2 linked regions of the Homo sapiens genome follow. The protein of the gene in region 2 purifies or fractionates together with the protein of the main gene of each other region. This does not show direct contact. Each region holds a gene or a part of one and is shown on either strand. Other genes may lie near its edges.

Region 1 (3,500 bases), on a different chromosome or scaffold from region 2:
TTGGCAATGGTACAGAGAGGGCAGTGGGAGCACAGATCTTTAGGAAAGTGTGCTAACTATCTCAGTTTGCCTGAGGGACCCTATTCTTCAGAGGAAAATACAGGGTAAGCTGTATCAGTACTCAATCTGTAGTCACCCAGGGTGGCAATATGTCACTTAATGCAGGATAAATTCAGATCTTAAATTGAGGGCAGATTAGGACTAGATTTGAAGGGACTTAAGTCAGTATATGCTGAGCATCCTTTATTTGAAATGCCTGCAGCCAGTCGTATTTCAGATTTTTTCAGATTTCAGAATATTTGCAAAGATAATGAGATATCTTGGGGATGGGACCCAAGTCTAAACACGAAATTTATCTATTTCATATACACCTTATACACATAGCCTAAAGGTAATTTTATACAATATTTTAAATAATTGTGTACATGAAACAAAGGCTGTGTTGAGCACTTAACTGTGGAATTTTCCACTTGTGGCATCACGTTGATGATCAGAAAATATTCGATTTGGAAGCATTTTGGATTTCAGATTTTCTGATTGGGATACTCAACCTGTCCCTTGGATTTCCACTTTTAAAAAAAATCCTTAGCATTTACGAATCTGGCTCGCTATATGAAACTTGGGTAACCAATGTCAAATCCTTTCTCAGAAAAAAATGATCATGGCTCAACAGTTATTTAAAGAGTTAAAACAGATGTTTAAAAGTTAGAATGAAGGACCAGGCCAGTGTGGGGAGGAGAGCAGCAGTGCACATTTTTACGTGGTGGGAATCAAGATGAAGAGGAAGATGTACCACAGGACACGCCCAGGATGTTGGGTTCCTGGTGCTGACCACAGTGCTATGGTCACTCCACAGTCCAGCACTGCAGTGCACAAAGGGTGCCCTTTGACAAAAATGCTGCAGCAAGAGTCTGACCAACTTGAAAAGCAGCAAATCAGCAAGATAAAGATTCCTGAGAGTCCTAAGTAGCCTCTACGAAGATACAAAACATGCACACTCACACAGGCTACTGACATGTCTGACAGCAGAAATTAACAGGCAGCTCTGCTAGCCTGTTAATTTCCACCTGGAAATGAGAGTATTATATAAAACCCTCACATGCTCAGTCTCCTTCCAAAGAAAAGTAATATATTTTCCTACTGACTTTTATACCGGTATCATATGTATAGAGGTCCCCAATCAAGAGAACACTTTACTTCAGCATGAACATTAAAAACTTCTTACACAAAATGAAAATTACTATTATATAATACTTTTATTGACAAAAATACAGATCCCAATTGACACAGCAAAAGTCATGGCAAAACCCATTTCCTACTGGAAGCAAATGTTACAAACGCAACTCACCTGGAAATCTTGATCATCAATTCCAAACCTCTCCCGCAGGTTACGGAAGACCATCGGGCAGTATTCCTTAAACTTGAAATGGCTCGGCATGTTTTCTCTGAAACAGTCACAGCGTGGAATAAAGCTCAGAGAGAGTCAATCAGACTTGCATCTGCCACCACTGAGTTCCACAGGTAGCCAAAGAAGGGTTCAGAGTTCACTGCCTACCAAAAGCACAGGTGTGCTTCCTAGAACCAGGTACAACCCGCAGAAAGATCCAGGAGACACAGGGGGCCAGACGGATGTCTGTCTGTCTCCTTTGTCACAGGCACGCTTGGACTATGTGACCTCTTTAAATCCTGGCCACACACTGCAGCCATTCCTCAAAGAACAAGAGGTGGGGAAGGAACGGGCCAGGCAGGGGGAGCAGTGAGGGAAAAGCACAATGGCGGGAGAGTGAGTTAGGAAGAGGCAGCGGAGCAAGGTTCCCTCTCAGCTACTGCTGAGGAAAGGAGGGCCACTCCCTCACCCCCCTAAAAGGCCTGTTTTATATAAATGCCACATTCTAAATTTGCTTAGAGGAAATTCCCTGAAAGTCAGCTTCTAAACACTGTTATGAGAAAAATTAACATCAGCTTCACATAAGGACAATGGCCCCCTGAAGAAATTTCATAATTGGCCTGGCATGGTGGCTTACACCACTCATTTGTAATCCCAGCACTTTGGGAGACTGAGGTGGGAGGATTTCTTGAGGCCAGGAGTTTGAGGCCAGCCTGGGGAACATAGTGAGACCCCTGTCTTTACAAAAAGTTTTTTAAAAAATCAGCTGGGCATGGTAACCTGCACCCGTAGTCCCAGCTATTCAGAAGGCTCAGGAAGGGGGATTGCTTGACCCCAGGAATTTGAGACTGCAGTGAGATATAATTTCACCACTGCACACCAGCCTGAGCAACAGAGCAAGATCCTGTCTCAAAAAAAAATTTCATAATGATCCTCACATGGGAGTGATTTGAGGTTCACCCTAATCATTCAGAATTGTTTCCCTCTTTGTGTTCCCACACAACCAGATAAATTAAATTATACATATGCACACACCCCTCCCTTATCATACTTTGCACACTGAACTATAGCAGTTTGTATATGTGTCAGTTTTTGTACTCTGAGCCCCTTGAGGGCAGGGCCGTGTCTTCTATATCATTGCATCTCTAGCTCTCAATGGACCACCTAACATATAATAGGTGCTTCATAATGACGTCTAAAACAACATTCAAATGAAGGAGGAATGTTATCAATGCCCAACATGGCATCTAATTGTGCCTTATGAAAATGTACCTTGGGTCTTTATTGTTCTAAGATGGAGTCATTGCTGTTCATAAATCATCATTTTCAAAGTTCTGTGTACAAGAGCAGAGGTTCATAACTGCTCAAAAATCCAAGCAATTTACAGCTTCAAAAATTTGAATTATAATGAGAATATCACTTTCAACGTATAAGATATTCATAGAGAACAATATGCCATATGGCAAAGGATATTATCCCAGAGAGCCTGCTGTTGCTTCTCTAAAAATGACAGATGGTTATGTTTATCACAGGATTAACTTCATCAGCAAAACTTTACTCCCACCCATTGACAAATTATGTGATTACAAAAATTCACAAAACTTGTACTCCTAGCAGCCACGCTAGTCTTATGAAAGGTCATACTTGTACTTACTTGTTAAAAAGGTGATTGTCCACCTTTATTTTTGAATAGGCTTTGAAGTCATCTGGCATCAACATAACAGGGATTTGAACATGGCTCAGTTCATTGATCTGGAAAAATATAAAATAAATAGCATGGGTTATTACTATCCAGGTGAGGAGGACTTGACTTGAATGTGTACCTTGGGAAAAAAAACATGGTGGACACAGGAACTTCTCTTCCCACCCACCAACCCACCCTCCTTCCCTCTGCCATCATAATCTCTCTTCCTGCCTTCCTCATTCCCACTTCTTATGTCTGTCTGATGCTGGGTCCATGGTGGCCACCGGACGGCAGTGGTGAGGGAGAGTCAATCCTCATGCCACCTGTCCCTGCTTCTTGCCCATCCACTCTCCCTACCTTCCCTCCACAACCTCATCCCACAGACCCTTTGGTCACATGTCCAGGACAACTTCCTTCTGTAAAGAAAAT
Region 2 (3,500 bases):
GTAAAGTCAGGCATATTTATAGCCATTTGGGCAGACCAGCATCAAGCCTGTTTAGGAACATCATACTTCTTTTTTAATGTTATTGGTTTTTCATAGAAATATTCATATCTTCTTGTATATAACCTATTAACTGGATTCAAAATCCTTTTGGCAACCATTCCACAAACAAGCTCTGGTAGGAAACAGCACACACCACTAAGAAAATGCTCAGGTTTAAGATGAAAGACTCTTAGAATGGTTCTATTTTTTATCACCAATACCCAAAGATTTCCCTTTGACAACTCAAGGTCCTAAGGAATTACTGTTCCTCTCCCTCCCATAAACCCTCATCCCCAAACTTCTTCACACTGACTGATAACTGTTTAGAATAAAAACAGATGGAGGAGAAGAACCCCATATCATGATTTTGGGTCCAACATTTGCTCCTTCCCCAAACCCACTCCCTAGCTAGCGCCTGCACTTTCTTACATGGCTGGAAAGTCCATCATCATTCGTAACTCTCTACTGAGTTCCCCAGCCCAAGCAGCACCCCAGCACATACTGACCCACCGTTCATGCCACTGTAGACATTCCGGTGATGGGGTGACCCGTCCTCCTGTGCCTGCCGTCTGAGGGTGCCCTCCCTGCTGCCTCCGCCGCTGCCTCCACTTCCTCCACTGCCTCCTCCGTGTTTGTGATCAGGGCTCCCTCCATAATGTTGTTTGAGGTGCTCCGGGCTGGTGCCCCTGGCTCTGGGGAGATGCTCTAGGCTCCCCCCAAGAGCGTGTTTCTGAAGATGCTCCGGGCTCCCTCCACTGTGCCTGGCGTGTTCAGGGCTGCTCCCTGACCGGTGCTTCTGGAAGTGTTCCGGGCTCCCACTCAGCACGTGCTTGGGCAGCGTTTCGGGGCTGCTCCCTGGATGCGGGTGCCTTTGCTGTTCGGGGCTGCCCTTGCACAAGGGTTTGTGGTGCTCCGGGCTAGGTCCTTTGAGTGCTTTGGGGCGATCTGGGGTTCCACAGGCTCTGGGTTTCTGTGGATGCTCGGGGCTGGCGCTCCTGTGCTTGGAGTGCTCCGGGCTGCCCTCGCTCCGGGGCTTCTGCAGGTGCTCCGGGCTGCCACTGCTCGCGTGGTGCTTGTGGTGGTCCGGGCTGTCAGTGCTGCCAGTGCTGGAGGTGCTGCTGCCGTCACCCACATCCCGCACGTAGGGTGCGGTGGAGGCTGTGAGTTGGCACAGGCTGGCCTGGCTGTCGATGGAGCAGCGGCTGCCTGCGCAGCCTGCACCCTTCTCCTCATCTAGTAGCACACAGAGCTCCTTGAGCTCCATGTTCTCCTTCACCACTTCCTCCTGCTTCACCTCCAGGTCTTTCAGCTTCTGCAGGTATAAGGCCACTTCCTTGTGCATCACCCCGGCAGTGTAGCGACCCAGTCTCTGCCACTCCCGAGACACCCTCTTGCCTTTCTGCCGGTCATCATCCAGGAAACAGCAGAGGTCCCTCAGTTCCTGGTTGTCTTCCTGGAGTTTCTGGTTGATATCCTGAAAAGAGAGACACAACCATTCAAGGGAAGTACACATCTGAGGTGTCAGCAGGCTCAGACTTCCTGGAAAGGGAGAGCCTGTAACTGGTGAATTACCTGTGAGGTTAGGGGAGGAGGTGAGGGAGTAGGAGGAAGCTGAAGATTTGTAGCTGTCCATAAAAATTAAACTAACTTAAGTATCAGTTCTATCCCTGCACAATACTTTACTTGCATTATGTCATCTAATTTTTACCCAAACATTTAGGGGATAATAATTAGTATGGCCATAAAAATTAAACTAACTTAAGTATCAGTTCTATCCCTGCACAATACTTTACTTGCATTATGTCATCCAATTTTTACCCAAACATTTAGGGGATAATAATTATTATGGCTCTTATACAGAAGAGGAAATCGGACCTCACAAAGCTTCACTTGTCCAAGTTCATCTGGTCAGTAGTTAGGGAGCAACCAGTTCATTATCAAGAAATCAGTCACTAGATAAAAACAAGGCTCCCCTGCCTCACCCTCAAGAAAGAAAAATAACTGCTTGTGACCTGTGAAATGCTTAAAAGCCCTGAGACAACAGACCTTTCAACAGAGTAAACAGCAAGCACTGCTTAGATCTTCAGCCCTGACATGGAATATGCAGCCCCAATTCCCCTGGTAGGGAAAGGCACAATTGCCCTCTAGTGGCATTTCAGCCCTGCACATCCAACCCCTACTTGCCACACCCACCTGAACATCTCCCAGGCATCTCTCACTTATCTCAAGCAACCTGAGCCTTAAATTAAGAGACCTCTCTCCCCAAACTGCACCTCTCAGCAAATGCCCCCTCTTTCTGTTCCACTGTTCTTTATATGAACCTGGGGTCATCCCTGGCATCTCCTTCTCCTTCAACCTTCCATTTCAAAACCAAACAAGGCTTTGGAGCTCTACTTCCAAAATTTAGCTCATCTTGTCATTCCCATGTTTGAAATCCTTTAATCTCATGGCCCTTAGGATACAATGCAAAATCCTTTAAGTCACACAAGGCTCCAGGTACATTGATTCTGCCTACTTCTCCTGCATGAGTGATGATTCACTTGCTTGTTCACAAATACTCAGTAAACATCTATTACTGTACCAGGTACCAGTCCAGGTGGTAGGGATATATCAGTGGACACAGCAAAGACCCTGACATGGTACAGCTTTTATTGTGGTGGGAAAGACTGGCAAAAAACACGTATAGAGCATAACGTCATGCAGTGAGAAGTTCTGGAAGGAAAATTGAAGCAGGTTAAAGAATACTCTTTTTCAAGAGAAGATACCGCTACAGAGAAGGGAAACATTTGAGCAGGCACCTGGGTGGAATGAAGGAGCCAACATTTGAGTGAAGATGATCCCAGGCAGGGAGAGGGCAAGTAAAAAGCCCTAAGACCAGCATGAGAGCAAGAGCTCAAGTACAGCGAGGTGAGCATGTCTAAAGAACAGAGAGCAAGTCAACGGACATGGGAAAGGGGGTCTGAGAGGCATCAGGGCCTAGAATATGCATGGCATGGTCAGCGACGGGAAAGGCTTTGGGTTGTTAGGGAGCTGAGGATAGAGGAGTGACATTACATGATTCCTTTTGCAAAGAATCTCCATAGTTGTGTGGAAAACAGACTGACTGGGGTAGGGGAGGAAAGAAGGGAGGGTCAGGATAAAGTGGAAGCTGCAAGATTAACAAGTAGGCTCCTGGGCTGGTCCAGGTAGAGGGAGATGATGGTGGCTTGGACGTGTGGTAGCAGTGGAGAAGGTGGGAACACCCCTCCTCATCACACACTGAGGCTGTGTTTCAGGTCCTCAAAGGGCAAGGCCTTTCCCTCTCACCTGGAATGCTCTCCCCAGCCTTCTAGACAACCATCAGGTCTCATTTTATAAGTCACTTCCCCATAGACACCATTCTATAGAAGGTCCACCCCCAATCTATGGTCTACCATCATCCCTCAGACTTACTGCAATTTGTAAGAAGAAATGTGTGAGTA

Evidence for each region. Proteins that work in one complex are often made in the same cells at the same time.
Region 1: the proteins of CCDC85A (region 2) and PIP4K2A purify together in Homo sapiens (affinity purification with mass spectrometry; one large-scale study listed by BioGRID and IntAct). This does not show direct contact.

Annotation. Positions count from the first base shown.
Region 1 is NC_000010.11:22,606,579-22,610,078, forward strand, and holds part of PIP4K2A (phosphatidylinositol 5-phosphate 4-kinase type-2 alpha), read right to left. Parts: intron 3,140-3,500; coding exon 3,042-3,139; intron 1,446-3,041; coding exon 1,349-1,445; intron 1-1,348. UniProt on the Homo sapiens protein: Catalyzes the phosphorylation of phosphatidylinositol 5-phosphate (PtdIns5P) on the fourth hydroxyl of the myo-inositol ring, to form phosphatidylinositol 4,5-bisphosphate (PtdIns(4,5)P2). Has both ATP- and GTP-dependent kinase activities.
Region 2 is NC_000002.12:56,190,490-56,193,989, reverse strand, and holds part of CCDC85A (coiled-coil domain-containing protein 85A), read right to left. Parts: intron 1,514-3,500; coding exon 550-1,513; intron 1-549. UniProt on the Homo sapiens protein: May play a role in cell-cell adhesion and epithelium development through its interaction with proteins of the beta-catenin family.